2 separate regions of the Homo sapiens genome follow, and region 1 is linked to region 2. The links come from fine-mapping of genetic effects on gene expression. A gene starts in region 2. The other region holds a variant in brackets. All regions are shown on one strand. Distances are from middle to middle. Region 1 holds the start of RRH (retinal pigment epithelium-derived rhodopsin homolog). Region 2 holds the start of LRIT3 (leucine rich repeat, Ig-like and transmembrane domains 3).

Region 1 (13,609 bases), 19 kb after region 2:
CCAGCAAAAGACTAGTATTCAGAAGATGGGTAATTCAACAGGAGGAAAAGACAAACTCAATAGAAAAATGGCCAGATGATGAACGGGGTATTCACACAAGCCCATTAGCATTTGAATGTTTATAACATAAGACATACAACCACAATAAATATTCAAAGAAATACTGATTATAAGATGGCATTTCACACTCAAGAAAATGAAAATTTAAAAGTCTGACAATCCCAAATGTTAAGGAGAATGTGGAGTAATAGATGTTCTCATAATCTGAATAACTATTTTGGACAGCAATTTGGCTACTTCTGATAAAGTTGAAGATGAACATTCTCTACAACTTAACCATTCCACTCCTAAGCAATGTGGCTAAAGAAACTCACATATTGCAGAAGGAGACATATGTAAGAACATTTACTGAAGCCTTATCTGTGACAGAAAAAAAAATGGGGGTCCGGGCGCAGTGGCTCATGCCTGTAATCCCAGCACTTTGGGAGGCCGAGGTGGGAGGATCATGAGGTCAGGAGATCGAGACCATCCTGGCTAACACGATGAAACTCCGTCATTACTAAAAAAAAAAAAAATACAAAAAAAAAAATTAGCCAGGCTTGGTGGCAGGCACCTGTAGTCCCAGCTACTCGGGAGGCTGAGGCAGGAGAATGGTGTGAACCCAGAAGGCAGAGCTTGCAGTGAGCGGAGATCACGCCACTGCACTCCAGCCTGGGCAACGGAGCGTGACTCCATCTCAAATAAAAAAAAAAAAAAAAAAGGAAAAGAAAAAAAATGGCAACAAAGGTCCAATAAGAGTAAAATGAAAATGTACATTGGGCTTTCTACGTTCACAAAATGGAATATTATATAGCAGTTAAAATGAATGACTTACAGTCATATCCATCAACATGGATAAACCTCAAAAACATAATATCTAACAATGAAAGGAAATCGCATAATGCAAACAATATGATATCATTTACACAAAACCTGAAGTATTCAGACAGTATCTGGTTTATGTGCACATATATTAGAGAGAAAAACATTCATGGGAGGAATAAGATTGAAGATGGCATGCGGTGGCCTTCATCATTATCTGTATAGTTTTATATCTTTAAAAAGAAAAACAATCTGAAGCACAGATTGCGAAACATTAAGATTTAACAAAACTGGTTGGTACTTACGTGGTTATTCAGTATTCACTACTACTTTCATTTTATTCTCTATAGTTTTTAGGTTATGATAGTAAACTGCTAAAAGAATTAGCCTAAAAGTAATATTTGCTTACTGTCTTAAGGCAAATTAATATTAACTCATTTCCTTTTTACTAAAAAATAACATTTAGTAACAATTCTTATGGAGGACTTTCTATAGGAAAAAATTCAACAACATGGTAGCTTAACTATCTTCCATAATATTATGATTAAATCACTACTTTATTGTTTCAGATGAAAGCAGGTTATTTTTTTTAATTTGCAATATGCAAATATTTATTTGAATATGCAAATCAGCACTCTTCTCCTTTGGTTGAATGCTAGTTATTTTGTTTGTTTCTTCCTTTGAGTTGGGAGAATTTTGAAAATATAACAATGGTTGGTGATTTAATTTCTCTTATTAAAGAATATATTCCTAGTCACTTCTGTTGTTTTCCATAAAAGCACTGTATCTATTATTCTACAATATTCAATTTAAACTCTTGGGATTCGTTTTAGACATTTAAATTTACATTTATTTGATCTATTTATTTTGCTTTCATTCCAATGATCTCCAATACCTGACAGCCTGCGTATCCAAATTTCCAACTTCCATACAGATCTGAGGCAGCAGACATGGGATAGCCAATGCTACTGACCCCTATATCAGTAACAGCCAGGTTAATAATAATTGCATTTGTGGGTGTCCGAAGTTCCTTGTACTTAATGAAGATGCCCAGAACTATTATGTTGCTGATAATACTTATCATACCTGAGAACACACACAAAAATATGATGCATTTTGTTTAATTTGAATGTTTCAAAGTAGACTCAAAATTAAATATTTAAGCCCCTTTAAAAACATAACAGATCTATTTTAGTTCATTTATTTGAAGAGCTCCTGCTGTTCTTAAAACTGTATGTGACATCTTCACATCCCTTCTGTGAAACAGAAATGAGAAAATTAAAACACAAAGAATCTGGTAATTGCACAAGGCAGCACTGAACGTTGGTTTTAATGTCATTGCTATTGAGTGTTCTGTCCTTGAAACTCCTTCATTGGCTTTCATACCATTCCTACTGATTTTTAGGACAAATATATGACTGACCATGCCCTCTTTTTGTCAGCTTAACTTCCTCCTCTTCCTTCCTGGGGCCTGGGGCTCTTCTTTTTCGATAGTTGCCTTTCTCAAGCTTCAATTATCATTCTATCCTCACAGCACTTTTGTCACTATTTTCAGCCATGACACAAGCTCCAGTTCCATATCTTCTTTTTTCATTGAACTCATTGTCGTTTACTAAGCATCTACCATATGTAAGCTCATATGACTATTCCAGTATTTCTTGAAACTCAACATGTCCAAATTCTTCATTCCAACACACACACACACACACACACACACACACACACACACTACCCCAATAGAAGAATGCATACTACAAGACTTGACTATCCAGAGAGGAAGTTGAGCCAGCTTTTTGGTCCATAGAGAAGCCTCACAGCTGATACCACCTTAATCAAGTTTCTGGAAATCAAGTTTCCAGAACCTCAGTGTTGTCAGTGCCCCAGATTGGTTGCACTGAGGTAGACAGATAACTAAACTTATTAACCAGAATGCCACTGTTTTATTTTACACTGAGAAATACTGTCGAGTGTACTGGATGTGCATGTTCAACATCCCCTACATGCTGTAAAGGGCATAAGCCAGATATGGGCATACTAGATCCTAAAGGGGTGTGAGGGGGTGGGGTGTGAGTAGATTTCATCCAAGAAGCTAGAATCATTACTGGATTGTTAGAGACTAAAGGAGGGTTGTGCAACAAGCAGGAATAGAGTTGAGTTCCCCATCAAGAAAAGAATTACTTGGTGATCAATCCCCAACTATTGTCAGAGAGGGACAGTTTCCAAGCACCAACATACAACATCAGCTCAGTAAAAACTTTTAACATATCTTGGCACTTCAGTCAGAACTTCTGCCTTAGCCTGTTAAACTAACCTTCCAGATTCCTGTTCTTTTCCTCTCCTTGCTTCTGGCAGAATCAGCTTGCTATAACATAGACTTAACCATGGTTCTTCTCCTCCCGAAAACTTGTAGTATTTCCCACTGGCTGTGGGATAACAATCCAAATTTCCCAACCTGATATTCCAGGCTCTTTGCCTCATCTGTTGTCACTCTCTAGAAGCAAATTTCTACACTTGTCAAGTGAACTCTCCATTCTAGTTTTTGCCCAGATACACCATGCTTGACTCATATTTCTCCCACTTGGAGCACCCTGCTCCTTCTCTTTTCCTATCCAAATGCCATCCATCCTTCAAACTTCAGTTCAAGCCCCTAAGCCTTATCCTACCCACACTATCCTCTCCTCCCTAAATTTCCAAACTACTTGCTTATGATTAACTGAGTCTTATGTAACACTATATAATTTAACTGTTACTTTTCCTTGTCTTTTCATGTGGATTTCAGGCTCCTCATGATTTCTGTGGTTTTTGAATACGTGACATACAGCAGATTTATTTAATAAGTGGGCTACAACTAAAACCCATATTGCTTAATTTCTATCATTCCTTCAAGATAATTAGCACACAATGACAGCAAATTTGATGATTCTTTGGCCCTATTTTTAGCATCTAGGATTGTAGCATGTATACAAGATATACTCCGAAGAATTTAATGAAATGAAGACTCTTTCTGGGCTAGCTACAAATTCAATGACTTTTTAAAGTTAGATAAAAACAGTGCAGTAAATTGCTGCCTACCAAGTACGCAACCAGAATAAAGGAACTATAATTCTGGGAGTCTTAGAAATAATGGGGGTTATGAACTAAACAGTTTAGCCCTTTTCTCTATTCTCTCTGCAGCTGTACCAAGCACACTGCCTTGTTTCCACAGCTGTAGGTCTTCTAATGAGTATACAAAAGATCACCTAGTTGTTAGATTTTAGTTAAGTCCCATTTCACAGTCAGTCTAAACACTAAGTAGCACTTGATGTTGATTTCTCCTTCACTCTTGAAACATTTTCCTTCTTGTCTTCCGTGACTTCCGTGCAATCTCTTCAACAGACCCTTCTTGATCTACTTCCTGGCCTTTCTTTCTCCATCTATGTCTTATTAAATATGTGCATTGTCCAACCTTCTGTCCTAGATCCCTTTCTTTTCACATTTAACACATACTCTGAGTAATTTCTTCATACCCAAGGCTATACCCTGATATTTTTCAGCCTCCGGACACTCAAACCCATGTGTCCAGCTTTTTATTGGACACCTCTCAAACTGAACTGAGAGACTTTTTCTCCTGCCTCAAACCTGTTCTTCCCCAGGTGTGTTCCCATCTGATGAAGAGCATCACCATCTATTCAGTGGCTCAAAAAAGAAACCTAGGCATCATCTTTGATACTTCTCTCCTTCTCCCACAATCCCAACATCCAATCATCAATTCCACCTTCTGGCTCTTGAATGTATCTACTTTTTTCTGTCCCCACTGCGATTACTCCCTCCTCAGAATCACTGCAATGGCCTCCTATGTGGTCCCTTAGCTACCACTATAGCACATTTCTAAAACACAAATCAGATCATGTCACTCCCATTTCAAACCCTTCAGTGACTCCCTGTCACCTTTAAAACTTACACGGCTCATCACTGTCTGGTACTCAGCCATCTTTTTCAACCTCTCACCCTTCATTTTACAGTTCAAACATAATGATTTATTTCAGATCCTCAAATTCACCATGTCCTCTTACCTCCCAGCCTTAACTGGGGAAAGGGAGAGTGCTCAAGGACACTAAATTAACAAAATGTCTGTTGCACTGGAAGTTGTAACAGTTTATAGGAGCCAAACTATAAATGAAAGATCAAATTAAAAATTAAATAAAAAATCTAAATAGGCCCTTGGTAAAAGTAACGAATGAAATAAATGCTTTCACTACACCCTTTCCTCATAGTTTTGGTTTTGATTTGCAACTTTAAGTGAGTTTTGTTAAAGGAGGAAAGTTAGGGGATCTAAAGAAAAATAGATGCTTGATACAGGGGCAGAACAAAAGCATAAAGAGTTCAGCTATGCTTCCTTCAGTGGATCCACCAGAAACACAAACAACACACACTCATTGTATACCTTGATAAAGCTGACTCTTGGATTTATATGTGAGGGCTCTAGAACCAAAATGCCTGGGTTCAAATCCTGGTGTAGCTGCTTAGTAAATGTGTGTGCTGGACAAGTTTCTTAAGCTCTTCATCTGTATAAACTAGAGAAATAAAACTGAAGAGTAACTTACTAAATTAGTGTAAGGATGAATTATTCTGTATGTGTAAGGTTTTAGAACAGTGCTTGGTATATAGCAAGTATTCAAATGATAACATTAGTAGCAGTAGTAGTAAGATTACTATTATTATTACTGTTACAGAGATAAGAACTAAATAGAATATTTTCTGCATGCTAATTTTGTAACCAGGTCAAAAAAGGATAGTTTTGGTTGTTTTTTGGATTTTTTTTTTTTTTGGTCATCTACAAATAACTAACTAAACCAAACACTTGTATACAAAGTATTTCCATGTAATTGTTAGGAGATTTTCTCAGTCTTTTTTGCAATTACAAAAAAACTAGAACTTGTCTAGTACTTATCATAGAGGTATTCAAATGAACGAGATAACGTCACTAAAATCGCAAAACTTAACTGAGGAACTCAATTTCCAGTACTAGAAGTAATACGCTGAATTATAAGGAAGAAACGTAAACAATTATAAACTGGGTATAGGATGGTGTGTTATACTTTTCACTCTACTTTTGAATGTTTGAAAATTTTTATAAAAGTCAATCCAAAAAATAATGAACTCAATATAAGAGTTACTTCTACAACTCGTTAGAGTATAAAGTTGAAAATTAAGTGATTGCTCAATATAAAAGTTACACAATTCAATGATACATTAAAAAGATAAAAAGTTTCTGTCATTCCCCCATCCCTTTTTTTCTGCAAACAATCCTTTACATCAATGAGTGTGTAGGGAGGAAAGGGAAAAAGAAACAAATATTTGTCCAACACCTACTATATGGCATTTATGTGTCACTTAATTTTACTCCTTATAACAATCATGACAGATAACTTATTCTTATCCTTGTTTTACAGATGAGAAAATGGAAGAACAAAAAGGGAAGATACATGCTCACAGTTGCAAATATACTAAAAGATGAAATCCAAAACTCAAGAGTTTTCCAATAAGCATTCTGGAACAAGCTGAATTTTCAGACTCTGTCCTCAATGACAATATACCCTGCTCTGTCTTCTTAGGACTTTTTCTTTCCAGAACCTTTAAGTTCTTAGCTAAATTCTACCACCAAGAACAAAAATATGAGGGTTATGTATAAGAATAGTAAATGACATAAAAATATGTTTTTGCCATGGTGCATACTCTTCTCCAATAAAAACTTTAACAATCCAATAATCAAATACATAGATTTTTATGAAAGAACTATTTATCACATAGAAAACTTTTCTCAGCCCCACTTCACTGCTCTTATTTACCAAAATTCAAAATAACCTGTGGCAATGGCCATCACTAACAATGCTTTCCCTTATTCTTTCACCCACATTATCTTATTTGATCTTTACAGCCCAGAAATAGAGTATCATCATCCTCATTTACCAACGAGCAAGCCAAGTCAGGATAAATGACTTGTCAAGGTTGGCCAATAATATGGAACTTGAAACAATGCATGCCTTATGCTGAAAACTTCTGCCTTTCTTCACCCATTCTAAAGAAAAATAACTTACTTAAATATCCATACCTGCCATAATCAAGTAAGTTGCAACAATATTGTGTTCAGTCTGTGAAAAGACCGAGCCATCTTCATTTTTAGAGTCTGAACTGTTGCCTAAATTATTTCTTAGCATTTTGGAGGGAAGATACCGAAACACCCTTCATAATAAGCCTTCGATAATTATGAACTGCTTTATGAGCTACTGAGGAAAGATTTTTTAGGACCAATCATTTCCACTTAGAGACCTCAAAGAAGGGCCTTTTCATAGAGGCCCTCCCTTAACAAATTTAATTGGGCTAAAGAGGAAAGGACTTTAATTCCCAGAATAAGGGAAAAGCTTATTAGCAAAACAAAAAGAAATACCAAGCACCACACATTTTAACCTATTTGGGCATCAGTCTTCTATCTAAGGAGATTATCAAGCACACACATCCCATTTAACAATAAACAAACTCAGGAAATCAGTATAGGAGCCAGCCTTAGTCCTCTAAAACTATTCGGATTAAGGTCCCTGTTTTCTGTTGACCATTCAAGTCTTTCCATTTCGGCTCCTTTTGTTGTTTTTTTTTTCTTAACAATTTAAATATTAGTGACAAAGAAGTAGTCTCCTTCCTACTTCCAAATCTCACTCTCCTAAAGGTACCAGTATTGTTTGGTGCATATCCTTTCTTAGGCTTTTCTCTGCTTATACACATATTCATACAAGTGTTTCAGGTTTCCTCCACTTTCTTCTTGTAAATAAAAATGAGGGAAAAAAATAAGTACAAATGTATATATATAATGCAACTTGTTTTCCCATAAGGCTGTATTATAATATCCAAGTTAATAAACCCAGAATCTAATAAAGTCTAATTTATTAGTAGCTATGTATTTCATAGCATGGATATAATATGATCAACTCCACCATCCGTTAATTTCCCCTATAGTTTGATATGCACATGAGTAATTAATATTATCTGATGATAGTAATCATTGTATACTTTGCCAGAGTATCTGAATTCAATCACTGATATTGTAAAGTACAGAATAAAAATATTCTGGATTATCACATTACAACCTGAAAACCAACCTGAGCATGTTTTGTTAGAATAATAAGGTATCCCTATTACCTTTTTTCCCATATTCTTTATGCCATTAACATTATTAAAATCTGATTCTCCTCAGTTTCCTAAAATCAGTAAACATTAGAGAAATGCTTAGATGCACCAAAGTTAACAGTGTAAGCATAAAACAGAACCACTAGAGGGCTATATTTACCCACTTAGTTTAATTTTATAAAAATCCTAGAATGGCACAGCAGAAACCTAAGATAATCCTTTTGCTTCAGTTCTCTTGCCTGTGTATAAACTCAAGATGAACAGGTTGATTTATCTGTCCCAAATCTTATAGCTACCAGTACTCACATTTTTATAAATGTAATATTGTTATACCTATACTAGAAAAGCGAATCTCGTCAGTATTGTTTTCAAATGACCCTAGAGCAAAAAACATAATACCCAAGAGGAAATCACTCCCTTTAAAAAGTCTTTGTCTTTTCTTTCATTCAATATGCAAAACAAAACTTAAAATTTTTGAATTTGCTTTGGGTCATACTACCTTCCTTTTCTGTAATAAGTTATACCTAGTTGTAGCATCCATGAAAAATTTTCCAGAAATAATTATTTCTAAGAACTGAAAAATATATAATTTCAGATAGTCAGCTTTCTGCTGCAGATGAAAGTTTTGATATGAGTGAGGTAGGTGCATTTGAAGTTCTTTTTTATGCTTCCTTCATGGGTGATACAGAAAAGCTATATTGGGATAAGGCTTAGAAATACATGTGAATTTGATTCAAAATGAAATGCCTCAAAAAAACCCAGAAACTAGGCCAGGCGCAGTGGCTCACACCTGTAATCCCAGCACTTTGGGAGGCCAAAGCAGGCGGATCACCTGAGGTCAGGAATTCGAGACCAGCCTGACCAACATGGAGAAACCCCATCTCTACTAAAAATACAAAATTAGCCGGGCATGGTGGCGCATGCCTGTAATCCCAGCTACTTGGGAGGCTGAGGCAGGAGAATCGCTTGAACCCGGGAGGTAGAGGTTGCAGTGAGCCGACATTGCACCATTGCACTCCAGCCTGGGCAACAAGAACAAAACTCCGTCTCAAAAAATAATAATAATAAATAAACAAATAAATAAACCCAGAAACTATAAGGAAAAAAAAGGAAAAGATGTGGAAATAAAAGCTTAAAGATGGACAATGAAAAAAAGATATACATAAGCTAAACGGTAAAATTTCCAACTGGTTTGTCTACTGATCTATATGTTATTTCCATTATTGCCATTTTAGATTTATTTTTAATGTTAAAAAAACAAACTGTAGAAATGTTGCGCTATTATTATTTGTCCTTGGGACAATGCCATCACCCTTTGGTGCTTACTAACATCTTTTCCAAACCACGAGCAAAAGCCCTGGCCCTAACACTCCATGAAAATTTCATCACCACAATTCCAAATCAAATAATCTCCTGTCCTAAGCTGTAAAAGCATAACTGCCTATTCCTGTAAAAACTGTAATTTTCAACACATTTGCTCATCATATATATTAATGGCCTATGTATTTATTCATCCTGCTGCAATTCCATCAATCAGAAAAAGATAAAACCCCAAATACTGACAAAGACAACACTGTATGCTCCTCAAATGAGCATTCAAGAGCGTTCCTCCATGGGCATGTTAGAAAATTTAACAAACGATATAGAAACATCATTCCTTTTGAGAAGTGAAAAATGAATGGCAGGGTAAATGGCTCCATATCATGGCATTCTAACTTGCTACCACAGTCATTTCTTTACATCCACTAGCAATGGTGACCAAAACCAATTTCATTTCTAACATCCTTACCCAGCAATCTGAACATGTAGTATGCAATCGAATTCGTGTAGTATACTACACGAATATTTACGTGTAGTAAATAACACCTTAAACTTTTAGAGTCCCTTTAAAAAAGTAAAAATAAAATAACATTCAGTAAAACTTCTAATATTCCATTTATGTTGGATGAGAAAAATTAACTTTAGAAATTTCTTGCTATAGTTTTCACTTCAACAGAGCTACTGCATCTTTAATACATTACTAATATGGAAAATTTTTAAATCAATTATTAATTGCAATTAGAGAAACAGCTTAACTGATTTATGTATTAAAATACAAAAGGCAAATACAAAGCTATCTTCTCATACATAAAAGGCCAGGGTTTTGAAAGGCAGTGTCAACTTGTAAATTATCTTAAAGTACTGCTACAGTAGTCTATTTTTTAAAAGATCAGTAATATAAATAAACAAATCCTTTTTTCGATCTGCAATTCACTGGGTTTAAGCTTTAGTTATTCCTTTCTACTTTAAAAAATGGGTTTCATTTAATAAACACACTCTAAATAACTTAAGGGAATAAAACACTTTATTTTAAAAATTCAAATAT[G/C]CTTCAAATGAAAACTCCTATCCATTTATTGAGCACCCACAGAGTGCCAGGCACTGTACAAAACATTAGAAAGACTTGTTCATGCTCTTTTAGAGCAAAATTCACTATTCCGTTGCACTTTGCATGATGCTGACATTTTAGATCCATTGTCATAAAATGACCAAGATCTTCAAGACTTGTTCAAGAAACAAGTTTCCAATCCATAGTAGAAACAGATCATGCAGGTTAATGCAGAAGTCAACTGGTGATGTCTGTCAACTGTTTCACTTAATGTCCTCTCCCTGATTAAGAGAAAATTAAAGTATTAAGGGCACAGAAAATGGATTTTTAATAGTATTATAACCTAAATCTCAAGTTTAAAATCAGCATTAGTTCCAATAATGTTTAGCAAACATACTTTACCAAATTTAACTGTCATTCATATTACACCTTTATTTTTCAAATTAATAATAAAGCAAAACAAATTAGAATTAGGTGAAAAAATTGAAAAGAAAAGGCAAAAAAAAAGTGATATAAAATGAAACCACAAATTAGGCTAAGCAAAGAACACCATGGTGTTCTATATACTTGCTGGCAGAGAAAATTAAACTTAAGTAAAAACAGAAAATGCCAGATAATATCAATTTTAAACATTAAGCAATTTAAAGACTTTTTAAAATACTCACCTCTGAAACCACCACCTCTTCCTCCTCTGAAGCCCCCACCTCCACCTCCTCTTCCACCTCTAAAACCACCTAAAAAACATTTATTAAATAATAACGCAAAGTATTTAAATAACAATAGAATATAATAATCATTAAGTTATTAACTGTATAACCTCTTATATTGATAAGCCTAAAAAGATCAATACAATAACTATAATTATAATGAATAAATATAGATTCACATATTTTATCAGGGAAAAAATTTTAGAAGATAAAAATGGAGAAACTGTAGTAGTTTACCAACTGGGCAACAGGCTAAAACCCCAGATTATTCCATTTCAATAAATTAGAAAAACTTGTTAAAGTATGATTCAGTCTTGTTAAATGTATGACTATTGCCTTAGCTCTTGCTTATGATAAATACTTTTTTGATTCAACTAAGGATAGTTTGATGGAACTGTGGCTTTTTATCCTAACAACAAAGGGTGGCAGATATGGGTGCTTTTGCTCTGGGGGTAAGATAATAAATATGATAGTTAAGATTAACTGAGCTACATAAGTAAGATTTTAAAAAAATAAGACAGCTGTGAATTTTTTGAAATGTTAAATGATACTCAACATAACATGAGAATAGGGGAATCTCTGTTCATCAAATTCTCAAGAAGGTACCCCTGAGAATTTTCCTACCTATATGGACACAAAAAAATACCTTTATGGAGTGAAATGGTGATTAAATTGAGAAACGCCAAAAGTGAGGCGTTCCTTCTCTTTTTCTGATCCAGTAACAAAAGCTGTCCAAGCCCAACTTTCAGCTCCTCTCCCTTTCCACTTTGGCTCTGCCCATCACCCCATCACTCGCCCTTCTCCTACTCACAGGGCATGGCAGCCCCACTCCCCAGAGCCCTGCTCATCACCTAGCTGTCCATAATGATGAATGTGCCCAAACCTTAGGGGAAAGGCATACATCAAAACAGGCATACATCAAAATACCCCAAAACCTTGGGGGAAAGGCATACATCACAACAGTGAGATCACAGTAATGAATTTATTAGTAATAGTTCTTGACATGACATCAGAAGATATGCATTTTAATTCTTGGGTCTGCCAATTGTTTGATTGGGGCAAATTAATTTCTGTAAGTCTCCGTTTCCTCATTCATAAAATAAGGATATCATCTATCTCAAAAGGTTTCGCTGAGTATTAAAAATATATACATGGAAATTAAAAGAATGTATGACCAGCTTTCAGCATGCAGTCTACACTCAATAATATTAACTAAGGAATTAAAATTAAGATAATCTTACGGTTTATTAAAATGTCCAAGAAAACATGAATAACCCAAAGAAATGAAGTCCCTCAAAAGTATACTTTAGTAGATTTTCTTCTTTTTAAGTAAGTTGTTGAAATGAAGCATTATTATTATGGACAATCTGCCAATATTGGAAAGCAGCTTTAATAAAAAGAACCATAAGGGAGGTTTGCTATGTACAAAGCTAAATTGTATTGTATGAATTAGCTGTGAAAGTCACAGTTAATTTCATTAGAAATTTTCCCCAAGTAACTTACCGCCTCTGCCACCACCTCTGCCACCTCCTCCTCTTCCTCCTCCTCGGCCTCCCCTGCCACCACCTCTTGGAGGTCCTTTCTCACCTGGAGGTCGAGGTAAAAACCTCTGCAGTGGCAGCAGCTTATATGGGTCTATATAAAACTGGAAACATAATAGAAGCAATTAGTATACAACTTGGGGGACAGTATAATATAATCATTAAGAAGCTACATGATAGAGTCAAAACTGCCTGGGTTCAAACCCCAATCCTACCACTTTCTACTACATATCCCTGGGTAGAGACTTAATTTCTTACTAACTTAGGTTTCTTTTTTTTTTTTTTTTTTTTTTTTACCTTAAGTTCTGGGATACATGTGCAGAACGTGCAGGTTTGTTACATAGGTACACATGTGCCATGGTGGTTTGCTGCACCTATCAACCCATCATCTAGGTTTTAAGCCCCGTATGCATCGGGTATTTGCCCTATTGCTCTCCCTCCCCTTCCCCCCATCCCCCGACAGGCCCAGGTATGTGATGTTTCCCTCCCTGTGTCCATGTGTTCTCACTGTTCAACTCTCACTTACGAGTGAGAACATGTGGTGTTTGGTTTTCTATTCCTGTGTTAGTTTACCTTAGTTTCCTTATCTGTAAAATGTAGAGAATAGAGTATCTATCTCACATGTTTGTGTGATGATCAAAAAAGTGATGTATATAAGGCACTTGTACTTTGGCACACAATAAGCATTACATGCATATTAAAAAATCAAGACCAATTCAATATCATTTCTCTTTAGAAATAGATTATTTAACATTTCCACTCAACAGAACTGCCGTAAGAAAAATAAAACTATTAAAAAACACAGCATTAAAATTCAAAATAAAGCATTCGCATACTAGTTGTTTCAAGTCTTTAATAAAGGATCAAAAGGGTATCTTCTGAACACACAAAGTAATGAAGGATATACAGAAACTATACCCATCCTATAATTGGGGTTAAAGAGGACATTTCTCAAATAATGAGATGTAAAGAGC
Region 2 (16,559 bases):
AGAAGAAAAGAGAGAAGAATCAAATAGACTCAATAAAAAATGATAAAGGGATATAACCACTGATCCCAAAGAAATACAAACTACCATCAGAGAATACTATAAACACCTCTACACAAATAAACTAGAAAATCTAGAAGAAATGGATAAATTCCTGGACACATACACCCTCCCAATACTAAACCAGGAAGAAGTTGAATCCCTGAATAGACAAATAACAAGTTCTGAAATTGAGGCAGTAATTAAATAGCCTACCAACCAAAAACAGCCCAGGACCAGATGGATTCACAGCTGAATTCTACCAGAGGTACCAGAGGTACAAAGAAAGAAAAAAAGAAAAACAGGAATTCATTTTATGAGGCCAGCATCATCCTGCTACCAAAACCTGGCAGAGACACCACAAAAAAAGAAAATTTCAGGCCAATATCCCTGATGAACATTGACATGAAAATCCTCAATAAAATACTGGAAAACTGAATCCAGCAGCACATCAAAAAGCTTATCCACCACAATCAAGTTGGCTTCATCCCTGGGATGCAACGCTTGTTCAACATATGCAAATCAATAAATGTAATCCATCACATAAACAGAACCAGTGACAAAAAGCACATGATTATCTCAATAGTCGCAGAAAAGGCCTTCTATAAAATTCAACACCCTTTCATGCTAAAAACTCTCAATAAACTAGGTATTGATGGAATGTATCTCAAAATAATATGAGCTATTTACGACAAACCCACAGCCAATATCATACTGAATGGGCAAAAGCTGGAAGCATTCCCTCTGAAAACCGGCACAAGACAAGGATGTCCTCTCTCACCACTCCTATTCAACACAGTATTGGAAGCTCTGGCCAGGGCAATCAGGCAAAAGAAATAAAGGGTATTCAAATAGGAAGAGAGGAAGTCAAATTGTCTCTGTTTGCAGATGACATGATTGTATATTTAGAAAACCCCATCATCTTAGCCAAAGCTGAAAAGCAACTTCAGCAAAGTCTCAGGATACAAAATCAATGTGCTAAAATCACAAGCATTTCTATACACCAATAATAGACAAACAGAGCCAAATCATGAGTGAATTCCCATTCACAATTGGTAAAAAGAGAATAAAATACCTAGGAATACAATTAACAAGGGATGTGAAGGATCTCTTTAAGGAGAACTAAAAACCACTGCTCAAGGAAATAAAAGAAGATATAAACAAATGGAAAAACATTCCATGCTCATGGATAGGAAGAATCAATATTGTGAAAATGGCCATACTGCCCAAAGTAATTTATAGATTCAATGCTAACCCCATCAAGCTACCATTGACTTTCTTCACAGAATTAGGAAAAACTACTACTTTAAATTTCATATGGGACCAAAAAAGAGCCCATATAGCCAAGACAGTCCTAAGCAAAAAACAAAGCTGGAGGCATCACGCTACCTGACTTCAAAATATACTACAAGGCTACAGTAACCAAAACAGCACAGTACTGATACCAAAACAGATATATAGACAAATGGAACAGAACAGAGGTCTCAGAAATAACACCACACATTTACAACCATCTGATCTTTGACAAACCTGACAAAACAAGCAATGGGGAAAGGATTCTCTATTTAATAAATGGGGTTGGGAAAACTGGCTAGCCATATGCAGAAAACTGAAACTGCACCCTTTCCTTACACCTTATTAACTCAAGATGGATTAAAGACTTAAATGTAAGACCTAAAATCATAAAAAACCCTAGAAGAAAACCTAGGCAATACCATTCAGGACATAGGCATGGGTAAAGACTTCATGACTAAAACACCAAAAAGCAATGGCAACAAAAGCCAAAATTGACAAATGGGATCTAATTAAACTAAAGAACTTCTGCACAGCAAAAGAAACTATCATCAAAGTGATGAACAGACAACCTACAGAATGGGAGAAAATGTTTGCAATCTATCCACCTGACAAAGGGATAATATCCAGAATCTACAAGGAACTTAAACAAATTTACAAGAAAAAAGAAAAACAAACAACTCCATCAAAAAGTGGGCAGAGGATATGAACAGACACTTCTCAAAAGAAGACATTTATGCAACCAACAAACATATGAAAAAAAAGCTCATCATCACTGGTTATTAGAGAAATGCAAATCAAAACCACAATGAGATGTAATCTCATGCCAGTTAGAATGGCGATCATTAAAAAGTCAGGAAACAACAGACGCTGGAGAGGATGTGGAGAAATAGGAACGTTTTTACACTGTTGGTGGGAGTATAAATTAGTTCAATCATTGTGGAAGACAGTGTGGCAATTCCTCAAGGACCTAGAACCAGAAATACCATTTGACCCAGCAATCTCATTACTGGGTATATACCCAAAGGATTATAAATCATTCTAGTATAAAGACACATGCACATGTATGTTTATTGCAGCACTATTCACAATAGCAAAGACTTCGAACCAAATGCCCATCAGTGATAGACTGCATAAAGAAAATGTGCCATGTACACACCATGGAATACTATGCAGCCATAAAAAGCATGAGTTCATGTCCTTTGCAGGGACATGAATGAAAGTGGAAACCATCATTCTCAGCAAACTAACACAGAAACAGAAAACCAAACACTGCATGTTCTCACTCATAAGTGGGAGTTGAAAAATGAGAACACATGGACACAGGGAGGGGAACATCACACACTGGGGCCTGTTGTGGGGTAGGGGTCTAGGGGAGGGATAGCATTAGGAGAAATACCTAATGTAGATGACAAGTTGATGGGTGCAGCAAGCCACCATGGCATGTTTATACCTATGTAACAAACCTACAAGTTCTGCACATAAAGTATAATAATAATAATAATAAAAAGAACCAGAGAAATACACATAGAACCTAAACAAGACCAAGTTCAAAATTCCAAAACTAGTCACAGCTAAACTAAGAGACCAAATCAGTTAGGAGAACCATTTGGGGCCAGTAAAATAACTGGTGTTTCCACCATTTCTTTTTAGATTAAGGAAATTTAGAAGCTATTCTTCCTAACTAATGAAGCCACTGCTATCGCATAAAGATGCCAGTGCCCCTCTCCTGCTCCTGAAGAACCTAATGAAGAGTTGAAAAGCAAACTGAGCAGAACTTTGTACCAGAGTATGGAGCAATGCTGTGCTCACAAGAGTCTATGCAGTTGGTTGATTCTGTCTCTCAGCTGGATGCTCTTTAAGAGAAATGGTCCTCTCTCCATTTATGATGCAAGTTCTTCTCCACTTTTCCACACATGTATGTACACACATGCATGCACACACACACAGCTCTTACACCTTACACAGGAGAAAGGGTAACTTGACCTAGGTTAACTAATAAGGTACTATTCCAGTAAAAGTGCAATTACAGAGTAAAAAGCCAAATCCAACAAATTTTAAAAGACTGGACAAAAAAAGCTATGCATAGCAAAGTAACTATAGATGAAAAGCCCAGAGGCTTGCGAGCTTACCAAGAATAATCCTGCTTGGGGAAAGGTCCAGGACTCCAGAAGGTGTTGAAACTAAATGAGTCCAGCTCTCCAGGAAATCTGGTGGCAATGTGGTGAGTCTGTTGCTTGATAAATCCAAGTAGGCAAGGTTCTTCAGATACCTGAGCGCCTCATTTGGCACACTGGTTATTTTGTTATTGTGCAAGTCCAGGGTCCTCAGAAGGGGCATGTCCAGCAGAGATGCCCAAGGGAAAGCAGCCAGAGAATTCCCATCCAAGCGCAACTCATGCAGTTGCTTCAGGTTGTAAAAGCTGCTGGGGTCAATGCTGGCCACGGAATTGTAAGTCACCCAGAGATACTGGAGCTCCACCAGGTAATAGAAGGCCTCCGCAGAGATTCTGCGGATGACAGTCTTCTCTATGCGAAGCTTCACAGTGTCCACGGGGAGGTTCGTAGGCAGCTCGTTCATATCCATGTCATTACATAGCACCAACCTAGTGTCACAACATGAACAATGTGAGGAAACTCACTTTCCAACACCCATTTGAAAAAAATACTTCTCATTTGAAAAATGTATCAATTTTCAGCTGGGCAGTGGCTCACGCCTGTAATCCCAGCACTTTGGGAGGCCGAGGAGGGCCTTGGTTCAAATCTAACCAAGGTCTAAGGTTTGCCACCTCCTCTGTGGCCATGGAAAACCACTTCACCAGTGTCTCAACCTCATTTTCCCATATGGCACTGTTATGGATGATTAATTACAATGGATGTAAAACTCTACAACTTCCTGGCACAGAATAGGTACTCAGTAGGTATTTGCTGCTACTGTCAACAACCTCGGTTTTACATGGAAAGTAACTGAGGCCCACCAACATTCAGTAACTTTCCAAGGTCACCCAGCTAGTGGGTTTCACAGCCACCTTTCAAAACCACTTCTGTCCAACTTAAAGTGCACCTCTTTAGGAAATGGCCCATTTTAAAAGAACCCCCTGTTAAAATAATAAATCAATCCTTGTTCAGAGAATAATTTATTTAGGTGAAAAAAAAAAGTGTTCACAGTACATGTTTAAAGTTGAACTCTGTTTTAATAACGTGACTTGCACATTGCTTTCTGCCTAAGGAATAAACCAGAAATTAGGAGTTGACCTTGAGCAAGTCACATTTTGATCTTGTTTGTTGGCACATATAAAACAGGCATAGAAAAACAACACTGGGCAATGTCCCAGCTGGGCAATGTGGCTCATGGCTGTAATCCCAGCACTTTGGGAGGTCAAGGTGGGCAGATCACCTGAGGTCAGATGTTTGAGACCAGCCTGGCCAACATGACGAAACCCCGACTCCACTAAAAATACAAAAATTAGCCAGGCGCGGTGGTAGGTACCTGTAATCCTACCTACTCAGGAGGCGGAGGTGGGAGAATCGCTTGAACCTGGGAGGCAGAGGTTGCAGTCAGCCAAGATCACGCCACTGCACTCCAGCCTGGGTGACAGAGCGAGACTCCATCTCAAAATAGAAAAGAAAGAAAGAAAGAAAGAAAGAAAGAAAGAAAGAAAGAAAGAAAGAAAGAAAGAAAGAAAGGAAGGAAGGAAGGAAGGAAGGAAGGAAGGAAGGAAGGAAGGAAGGAAGGAAGGAAGGAAGGAAGGAAGACAACACTGTCCCATGTGTAAATTTAAAGTATGAGGAATCTGAGAATTTAGATTCATTTTAGCCTGGAAAAAGACTTATCTCCTATGAGATACTCATCTGAATTATGAAAAATGAACAATAAGAAGTTTTGCAAAGTATCATCTAAATTATAGCACACTATAAATTTAGTAAATAATTACAATAAAATAACCCTTTAGTGAAACATATGACATTAAATCAGTGGATTTGAAAAACCAGCTCATAATGTATACACACGTAAGCAGCATAAAGCTGCAATGTAGTGGTAGTGTTATGTCCTTTCTATAACTTCAGGAAAAGACCTCATGGAATCTTTGAAATCCTCTAGGGATATCTCTTACTTTTCATCTCTATTTTATATCACAGATTTCAGTACTACTTTATACCAGAATGGTAGCAGTTTCTACTCATTAAGAAAGTATTGGCCGGGTGCGGTGGCTCACGCCTGTAATCCCAGCACTTTGGGAGGCCGAGGTGCGTGGATTACCTGAGGTCAGGAGTTTGAGACCAGCCTGGCCAACATGATGAAACCCCATCTCTACTAAAAATACAAAAACTAGCTGGGCATGGTGGCACACGCCTGTAATCCCAGCTCCTTGGGAGGCTGAGGCAGGAGAATTGCTTGAGCCCGGGAGATGGAGGTTGCAGTGAGCCGAGATTGTGCCACTGCACTCCAGCCTGGCTGACAAAGTGAGACTCTGTCTCAAAATAAATAAATAAATAAAATAAGTATCTCAGCATGCTATCATAGAAGAAAGTCTAGTTTGTACGCTAAAAGATCTAGCATCTTTATGAACTTAGTTACTACATCAACACAATTATATGATCTAGGACAAGTCATTTGGTCTCCATACAGTTTAGTTTCTTCACTTATAAACTGACAAGGGGTTGAACTAGATTATTTCTTGCCAGGCCTAATATTCTATAATTTTTATAAAATCCATCAATAATGGGGTCACCACAAAGAAGGAAACATTTCTGTGATAGTTTCTCAAAAGTACCCTGGCCTGATCCTTCACTGCTACACGTCCCTGGACAAGTAGGTCTTTAACTTGCTACATTCTCTTCATTGTCTTTAACCACCCAGTGAATATCTCAAAAAATACCAAGAATTGGTTAACTAAAGTTTATACAATAACAAGATAAGCTTTTCACAAATATGTCTTATTTATTATTATTTATTTGTTTAAAGTTATAAGACATAAATTGGGCAACTCTTTTAACAAATTATTTTATCTGAGACACCGTTTACTTCAACCAAGTCACAAATAACCTGATTTTGTTATTAAATAACCTCTCAAAAAAAAAATTCAAGTTCTACTGTGTTTAGCTAGCAAGAGTTCTGTTTTGCATTTAACATATCTAAAAGGCCTCATGCACAATATAAGTAAATAACTCTTCTCACTACACAAGTAGATGCTAAAGCAACCTAGAGATTGAATAACTTCTGTGAGATCCTGCAGTGTCTGAAACAGACAGTATCTTTTTCAATCTTCTTTATTTTGTAAATTCCATCAGCTTAAAATGAAAAATTCTAACTATTAACCTCTCTAACTTCACTCTTGAGATCTTTCTTTCTGCCATTCAATTGGCATGAATAGTTCTCAAAGGAAGTGGAGAGCCATGAAAGCAAAGGATCTGAGCATGTCACGCAGCTCCTGTTCAGCCTGCCCTCTTAGCCTTTCTATAATCAAGGGCTTAGCTGGCCATGCACCTTTAAATCGTTTGATCTCAAGCAACAATTTGTGAACATGAGCATAATAAAAATTTTGGAACATAGAATGTGTTTAGAAATTTCCAATACCTTGAGAGGCCTTTGAGAGTTAAACTGCTCAAAACGAAAACAGTGAAGGAGTAGGTGACCAGTGTTAAAACAATTAAGTTAAAGCTTATGGACACTAAACATTCTCTTCTGTGATTTCTGATCCCCAAACATTTGCTTTCAAAAGTAGGCTTTCTTGTTTGGGTCCTTTTTGTCAAAATAATGAGAACACTTAGTAACAAGCAGAGGAGCATACCTTGATCCTGAGCCGTCATTTCTGCCGTGATAATCACAGGTGCACTGTGAAGGACACAAACAGCCCACTCCTTCCAAAAAGCTAAGGACAATGCACAGACATGCAAAGAGATGCATTGCTCCTTTTAGAGGTTATTTAAACAAAAGGTAAAAACCGAATCCTAAGCATTCAGAACCTGGTATGCCTGGAATACAAACAGCCATTTAGTAACAGCAGATTACACGGGATTAGCTGAGATCTGTAGTTACTTAACCTTCAAGTGTATCTTGCAGGAGATCAATTGATCCAGCCTTTGAATACAGTTTCAGCAAAGTAACACATTCTAAGGAAAATGAAAATCAAACACATGACAAGCAATTTCAATAGTTACCCGTAACTAGATTTGCAAGAAAATGCCTATTAAATCCCTTTCTTCTGGATGTACTTGCCACTACACCTTAAAAATATACTTAATGTAAAATAATTCAGTCTTGGCAGATGCAAGAAAATTCTGTAGATTATTTACATGTTACAACATTATAAAATGTTTTGCATTTGGTTTTTGCCAGAATGTGTTACTAATTCAGTTTTACAAAATTTAGTTTTAAAAATAGAAGCACATGACATAAAAATGATTTAGAAAAGAGTTATCGATGTTGCCACATACTGGCTATCTCTAAAAGTAAAGTAAAACAAGTCAGTTACACAGATTTTATAGGGAAAATGCTTCAATCCACTACTGATGTGGCAGGACTAAGTTCTCCAATAAGAACGTGTTCTGAGACTCTTCCAGGTCATCTCAGTGTGTGGAAGGTTTATCCCAGCACATTTATTTTTAATGCAGGCAACTATCTCTGTTCAATAGTTTCCCAAGTTATCAGCATCAAAGCCATATTTGAAGATCAACTCTAATTCTTTCAGCTATATTAGGCTCTGTCAGAAAATAAAAATTAAATGTAATTAAATTTAAAAGTATCTCCACACTCATAGAGTGGAGAATCCACAGGGACAATCAAGGATTTAAGTAATAAATATACGTCATTTAACCTTCTTAGTGGCTGCTTCTAACCATCCTCTTTAACTAAAAACCTTTTTAAAAGAAAATTAATTCTATAAAAATAAGCATATTATAGAAAATGTTATTTAAAACCAATAGAATGTATATAAAAACCATACAGTCTGAAAAACTGTGCTCAATTAAAATAAAATACTGCAGGTTTTCAGATTCTGCACAACTCGTTTGTTCATCAAATATTTACTGAGTACTTATTCTCTGCTGAGCATTGAGGGGTACAAAGATAAATAAGACAGTTATTACACATAAGGAACTCACACGATAAAGGGAGGAACAGACTACTAAAGAAGCACGAGAAAAGAGCATCAAACCCAGCCTGTGTTAGTCAAGCAAGACTTCCTAGGGTGGGTGGTGCCTGGCTGCCTTTTACAGGGTGCATGACGATGTATTATGGGAAAATCCAGAAAGTTGCATTGCAAGCAAAGGGAATAGTGGGAACAAAGGGAGGGAAGTGAGAAACAGTGTATTGTCCTCAGAGAATTTCAAGCACTTCTTGTTGCTCAGGCATAAGATTTTGAGGCAGGAAGTTAAAAAAGATAAAGCTGGAGAGATAAGCGGGGATGAAGTTATCAAGGAAACCCTTAGATTCCCTATGGAGAGCTTACTCTCAGCCTACAGGCAATGGGAGCAATAAAAGTTAGGCTTGGGAGTGGCATATCAGCTTATCCTTTCAGGAAGAATTCTCTGGCGGCTGTGTGGAGAAAAGGTTTAGACAGAGCAAGCAAGAAGAAAGGAGGAAGCTTCTAGATAGAGCAAGCAAGAAGAAAGGAGGAGGCTTCAGGTGGATGTCTGTGGTTATAGTCCAGGTGAGCAGCCATTAGGCTACAGCCTTGACTGCTGTGCTAGTAATCGTTAGGATAATGCAGCTTCAGGAAACACCCAGGAGAGAGAAATGATTGATTAGACGTAAGGATGAAGAAGGGATTTAAAAACAACCCTAAGGTTTCCCAGTGCTGGAGATGCAGTGAGAGGTGGTGGCCTCGAGTTTTTGAGCACAAGAGGAAAAAGAAATTGGATGGGTAAAGCTCTGATCGCCAAGTGACCAAGGGTTTTTGAATCATTAATTTCATGGATGTTATGACTTACATGGAAGCAAGACGTGCCAAATTGAGCATAGAAACGCTGTTTAAAGATAAAAACATCAGAAATTAGCAAACTAAGAGGTCAGAGGGAACTATGTAACCAAAGCCAGGTCTTCCTAGTTTTATCATATAAGCAAATTAAAAAATAAATAATATAGCATTGAAATATAATTACTGTACACTGTTGAAGTCCTTTATATTTGAGGCAAAGTTGCTTCTTGCTTATCGCTGGAAATGAGTTCACAGCCTTGCAAATTGGAACTCTGAGTCCATTTTTCTAGACATTATTACAGAAGTTGTCCTGGCCTTTTAATGGCTCTGGGACTTTGGGTGCAGATTTCACTATGCTTTCCCTGTAAAAAGGCTCGGCTATGATAGACAGGATGAGCGAAGACCTAGTGACACAAAGCATTCAGAGCTCTCTCGGAACACTAGACATTTTAATTTGGCCATGAAGAGAGACAAAAAGCTGAAAAGTCCCTCTTGAAGTATGTTAAAGAGGGCCTTGAAAATCCAGCTGAGGGGTTTATACTTACTTGGTGGGTGAGTGAAGGTTTTTAGCCAAAGAATTTGGGCATTGGAACTTTATTTTTAAAAGATTAGCTATGAAATTGTATTGATTGAGGTTGTATTGTATGAATTGATTGCAGTGGGAAAGTCAGAGAGTTAGGAGATAAGGTAGATTACTATGACAGTTTACCTTTCCATATACGTAGAAGACTGTACACATAAAACTAATACCTGTATTTTACTTAATATGTAGCCAAAGGTGCTAAAGAGACAATTTATAGGAAGAAAAAATAGAGATTAAAAAATACAATATGCAAAGATACACAGCCTCACTAGCAGTTAAAGAAATGTGAAATAAAATGACTTTAAGTTAGAGTATATAACTCATAATTTAAATATATACAGGACTATGAGCAGGAATATGCAGTGAAAAGCTCACTTAGACACTGCCAGTATCAGTGAAAACTAATTCAATCTTTCCATAAAGCAAGCTAGCAAAAATAATAGTGTTTTTGTATTTGTATCCAGTATTTCTAGTCTGAAAAGAAACACTCAAATAGAATAACTTCTCCAAAAGAAAAAATATATTTGCACTGAAATATTTTCAGTGGTATATCCATGAAACTAAAAACTGGAAAGCAATTTAAATGTCTACTATTTAAACAATGGTATATTGTATTATGCTTAACAGTCATTTAGAATGACAAATATGTGAAGTCTACAAATTCATTTGACATTGAAAAAATATTTATTGAGTGCCTACTACATGCCAGACAGAATTGGGTATATGTGCTAAGGATACATCAAAGAACAAACATATAAAAATCTCCACTCTGATTGAAGTTAACTCTGTTGGCAAATATATGGAATATATATGCAGAAAAATGGTACTCAAAATTGCAGAAAACATCAAAATATGCACAGGGGTCATAATGCTATATAATATATATGCATTGACTTAACATTTTATTTAGAAACAATCATGTTTAATGTTCATTTATTTTTGTTTAATAACATAAGTTAATTGATTTAAATGTTAAAATGTTGAAATTCAAAAAATGCTTTCTATTCTAACTGGGAACATCCAACAACTCATTTCAGTAATTATCTAGAATTATTCATTTATTCTAACATTAAATTAGTGACTGCTTTTATTCTAATGGAGGAGCCAGGCAAGTTAAAGGTCATCAGTACAGTGTAATGCATGCCATAATAGGGAGAAAGAAAGGGGACCTTAACCTCTGATGCCTAATTCATCAAAGGAGATGAGCAATAAGTTGATATATCAGGACACAGAGAAGCATACACTACAGCAGCCAGAGTGCACAAACAGAAGCACGAGCTGTGCTTGAGGAGCTTACACTCTCATAGGACAATGATCCATGTCTGCACTTGATCTAAATGGGCTCATATTTAAAAGAAAAGCATTGTCAAAAAACTAAAGTGTTTTGATAGTGTGTCCTTTTATCTTATTTCAGATTCTTCCAGAAGCCAATGGGTTTTGAGATACATCCATGGGTAAAATACTTGTCACAGGCATTGTTTGGTGAGTCTGACATTTGAACATGGCAAGCATTGCCCTCCGAAACCTACGATAAAAAAAGGAAAATCTGGCATTAACCCATAATGATTTGGAACTTCTAAAGCATTTTCAAATATGGCTAAGATGCCACTACTGCCAATTTACATCTCTGGATAAATTTCTGCCTCCAACTTTAACATGTCCTGTTGAGAACCTTTATAAATATATAAAGTATATGGTACAGTTAAAGCCCATTTTGCACTATTGATTCTATAGATTTCCTGTTGAGAAACTTTATAAATATATAAGGTATATGGTACAGTTAAAGGTCAATTTTGCACTGTTGATTCTACAGATTGAAGACATCTACTAAAAGTAAATAATTATATGTATTTAAAAGGATGCTACTAATGTCAAGTGCCATGAGTTGTTTATTTGAACTAACAATGTGTATTTCATCCATCTGTTCTTCCTAGCAAGAATTTTCCAAAAGAACTACCAGCAGATTCTGAATTTAAAATGTGTTCTTCATTCTTCTTATGTGGTCTGTTTGGTCTGTAAAATTTTATGTTTCTTCACATACCTGTAGCTAAAGCTGCTTTTCCAAACATTGCCATTCCAGGATAAAATTACCTGACCTCGGCTGGACGCGGTGGCTCACGCCTGTAATCCCAGCGCTTTGGGAGGCCGAGGCGGGCGGATCACGAGGTCAGGAGTTCAAGACGAGCCTGGCCAAGATGGTGAAACCCCATCTCTACTAAAAATACAAAAATTAGCCGGGTGTGGTGGCGGGCACCTGTAATCCCAGCTACTCGGGAGGCTGAGGCAGGGAATTGCTTGAACCTGGAGGCAGAGGTTGCAGTGAGCTGAGATCACACCACTGCACTCCAGCCTGGGTGACAGAGAGAGACTCCGTCTAAACTTCACTGAGGAGGCAGAAAAGGAACATTTTGCTAAGAAACCCAAAAAAGAGAGGAGGTAAGAATTCTCTAGTATCCAGATGCCTTTTATGTTGGGACTAAACTTTTCCCTTGCATTTGAATGATATGTCTTATTTCTTGTAAATATACATCTGTGCTACCCACCAAGTGAGCCCAATGTTGCCTTGTCCATTTTCCAGTTATAGAATCCCTCTTTTCTTTGGAAACCACTATTCCATGTATTTGGGGTGGGGGTAACCATTTGAACTAAGCTGACCACTGACATCCCAGGCTCTTTTCTGCCAGAGAGCCATCTGAGATGCAATTGGCATTTGGGGATGCTTAGCTGGTAGAACTTGGGTCTGGGGTTGCCCACAATCATCTCTGCCACTGTGTGGGAAGAGTCTGTAACAAATCTGGAGCTCTAAGCATTTAAGGTCCTAGATGCTGCTCCAGTCACATGAGGCAAATGACCTTTATGCTAGATTGAAGTGGGTTTCTGTCACTTCTCTCCCAAGAAGTCTTAACATTCTTTTTATATCAGTTTTATTTTGTACTGCAAGCATTTTAGACATTACTTACTTTTTATTAGCAACCACATAAATGCAGGGGTTATAGAATGTAGAAGATTTTGCAAACAGTGGAGCTATGATGGCCATGGGGGGAGGAATCTTCTTTGGGTCACCAAAAGAAGCCCATAAGCACACGATGGAATAAGGGGACCATGCCACCAGAAACATGCAGATCATGATCACAGACATCTGAAAAGAAATAAATATTCACCAAGCCCAATACCTAAAATATTTAAATATTAATATATCTAAAGTTGGGTAAAAATCTATCTGGGTTGGAATTTGAATATGTTTATGTTTTTGATGACATAAAGGAAATAGTTGAGTTTTTTTTCTGCCTTCAATGTTCTTTTTTCAAGTGCCTGAAGTCCTCGATGATAATAAGACCTTGTGAAATGGGTATATCAAGAATATATAACATTGCTTTTAAGAATGGTACACACACATAAGGAATGCCCTCTTTCTTTCTGCGTGCTAGGGGAGAGTACAAAAGCTGACTTTGATGAAAGACAGATAAAAACCCACCCCACCCCACTTCACATCATTATGCTATGAACTCCTGGCATGGCTATTATTATTATTATCACCATCATTATTATTTGCTCTTACTGGGATTACCTGCTAAATTAACAAAAGTAACTTTCTAACTTTCTAAACTCAATCTGGAAACAAATACAATCCTATCTTGAGCTCAGTGAATTCTAACACAGGCCATTTCTGCTGGATATATGTTACACACAATGCAGACAATTTTGTAAAGGAGATCTCTTGCATCTTGTTTAAATGGAAAAATTATATTTTTATATTGCTTCCCTAGATTGCCTGCTAAAATTATGGAACAGAGGTTAAAGAAGACATAAAACCATAAGGACAGAGAATCAGAGATTAGATAATACATATTTTTAATGGAAAAAATGGCCATTGGATAAGTGGCAAATTATGTAAGAAACATGAGAATAATTTTATAAATAAGTAAATAAATAAACGTTAAAAAGAGCCAACTATGAGGGAAAACCAGATACAGACCAATCCATACTACAGAGCTACAGAAATTCTAGTAACAAAGGGTACCAGAAAACTCTAGATGTGGGGGTGCACATGGAGCTCAAAATAGAACTGGTTGAAATCTACAAAGAAAGTAGACTTCCAAATCTTTACCCCTGTCCACTCAGTCTACTCAGTAACTTCCCCTTCCTCTCCCTAGAAGACTTCCAGAGGCTCAGTATAAAGAAAAAAGAAGGCTAATTTGGGAAACTCAGAACACAGGGACACCAGGTTCAGCTAAGCACTTCAGTACTGTATTGAAAAGAGGGGTACCTGTATGCTGCTCCCTCCCTGCACTGAGTGTGAAAAAACTTGGAGATAGACTTGTGCCTCCCACCCAGGAACATGAAAGGAACTGATCTGCCCAGAATAAAATACCTAAAGATATAGTTACCTAGACAGTTAGAAATTCCCCCAAACCTCCATTCCATCATTTTAGCAGGCAATCAGGAGGGAGCAACATGAAAAATATAATTTTTCCATTTAAACAAGATACAAGAGAGCTCCTTTACAAAATTATCTGCATCATGTGTAATATATATCCAGCAGAAATGGCCTGTGCTAGAATTCACTGAGCTCAAGATAGGATTGTATTTGTTTCCAGATTGAGTTTGGAAGTTAGAAAAAAAATTTTTTTGATTAGCAGATAATCACAGTGAGAGCAAATAATAATAATGATGATGGTGGTCATAATAGTAATAATAACTACAGAGACAATTAGAAATTCCCCCAAAAGAAACATCTTGCTAATGAGCATCTCCATGCTTACAATCAACATTTTTAATGCATTACTCTTAAGTATGAAGGGACAATCACTGACCACCAGACATTAAGAAAACTTTTACATTGACAGGCAAAGAAAAAAAAAAAAACAGTGCAAGAACTCAGGGGAAACAAAAATATGTGGTAAACAGAAGGAAGTATAAATATATACATAATATCACAGAAATAACAGGAGATATACATCCATAAAACAAGGAGAGAATAGAGTATAAAATAGCTGTTTTATCAATAAAAATGGTTTTTAACTCAAGAAGAGAACCCAGGCAATACCATTCAGGACATAGGCACAGGCAAAGATTTCATGATGAAGATGCCAAAAGCAATTGCAACAGAAGCAAAAGTTGACAAATAGGATCTAATTAAACTAAAGAGCTTCTACACAGCAAAAGAAACTATAAACAGAGTAAACAGACAACCGACAGAATGGGAGAAAATTTTTGCAATCTGTGCATCTGACAAAGGTCTAATATCCAGCATCTACAAGGAACTTAAACAAATTTATAAGACAAAAACAAGCAACCCCATTAAAAAGTGGGCAAGGGACATGAACAGGCATTTCTCAAAAGAAGACATACATGCAGCCAAGAAACATGAAAAAAAAAAAGCTCATCACTGATCATGAGAGAAATGCAAATCAAAACCACAATGAGATACAATCTCATACCAGTCAGAATAGCTGCTAATAAAAAGTCAAAAAATAACAGATGCTGGTGAGGTTGTGGGAAAAAAACACTTTTACACTCTTGATGGGAGTATAACTTAGTTCAACCATTGTGGAAGATTGTGTGTGGCAATTCCTCAAAGACCTAGAGACAGAAATACCATTTGTCCCACCAATTCTTTTACTGAGTATATACCCAAAGGAATATAAATCATTGTATTATAAAGACACATGCACATGTATGTTTATTGCAGCACTATTCACAATAGCAATCATGGACATGACATGGAATTAACCTAAATTCTCATCAATGATAGACTGGATAAAGAAAATGTGGTACATATACACCATGGAATACCATACAGCCATAAAGGAATGAGATCATGTCCTTTGCAGGGACATCGATGGAGCTGGAGGCCATTATCTTTAGCAAACTAATGCAGGAACAGAAAACCAAATACCTTATGTTCTCACTTATAAGTGGGAGCTAAATGATGAGAACACATGGACACACAGCGGAAGCAACACACACTGGGGCTTGTTGAAGGGTAGAGGGAGGGAGGAGGGAGAGGATCAGGAAGAACAGCTAATGGATGCTGGGCTTAATACCTGGATAGTCTGTGCAGCAAACCACCATGGCACACGTTTACCTATGTAACAAACCTACACGTCATGCACATGTACCCCTGAACTTAAAATAAAAGTTGGAAATTTAAAAAAAATGGTTTTTCTCCTATCTGTAAAAGTGAGAGTAGAATGTAAAAAATGTTACAGAAAGGTTGTATGATATTATCAGGCTGGGAACAGGGGGAGGTGAATCAGGTGAATTATATCAGTGCAGGGTCGGATCCTGTTTTTATTTAAAATTTCTATTTTGTTCAACATAATTTTTACATTAATATTGTTTTTTAAGTACTACATTAAACCACTTTTTTTATTAATGAGTTTTTTGGTGCTTGCTTGAATTTTGCACCCAAGGGTTGGCCTTCACTATCCTCACCCTTATCCTAGACCTAGATATGGTTAAGCAAATCTCCCAGAAAGTAGAAACAAAAAGAAACAAACAACAACCACAAAAGAAACAAACAAAAATAGACAATATAGGAGAGAAAATTTAAGAAAATTAGAAGGTAAATCTAGCAGATTAAATATCTAAATAAAAGGAATTCCAGGGAAAGAGAAGAAAAGAAAAAACAGAGGGACTGAAATAATCAGAGAAATGATACTAGAAATCTCCTAGAAGAGGAAGACTGGAGTCTCCACACTGAAAGTACTCACCAAGTACCCAGCA

What was found. PIP is the estimated chance that this variant, and not a neighbour inherited with it, causes the effect.
Region 1: its variant is fine-mapped to the expression of LRIT3 in whole blood (TOPMed, PIP above 0.99).

What each region holds. Positions count from the first base shown.
Region 1 is chr4:109,821,477-109,835,085 of GRCh38, reverse strand. It overlaps GAR1 (GAR1 ribonucleoprotein), which reads right to left. Exons shown (of 7, transcript NM_018983.4): 5 at 12,598-12,739; 6 at 11,053-11,121; 7 at 10,349-10,668. The coding sequence ends at 10,655. It overlaps RRH (retinal pigment epithelium-derived rhodopsin homolog), which reads right to left and starts at 7,114. Exons shown (of 7, transcript NM_006583.5): 1 at 6,953-7,114; 2 at 1,757-1,947. The coding sequence starts at 7,058. The variant G/C (reference allele first, on the strand shown) is at 10,388.
Region 2 is chr4:109,838,879-109,855,437 of GRCh38, reverse strand. It overlaps LRIT3 (leucine rich repeat, Ig-like and transmembrane domains 3), which reads right to left and starts at 7,331. Exons shown (of 4, transcript NM_198506.5): 1 at 7,121-7,331; 2 at 3,462-3,934. The coding sequence starts at 7,236. RRH (retinal pigment epithelium-derived rhodopsin homolog) reads right to left here. Exons shown (of 7, transcript NM_006583.5): 6 at 12,791-12,969; 7 at 10,496-11,355. The coding sequence ends at 11,241.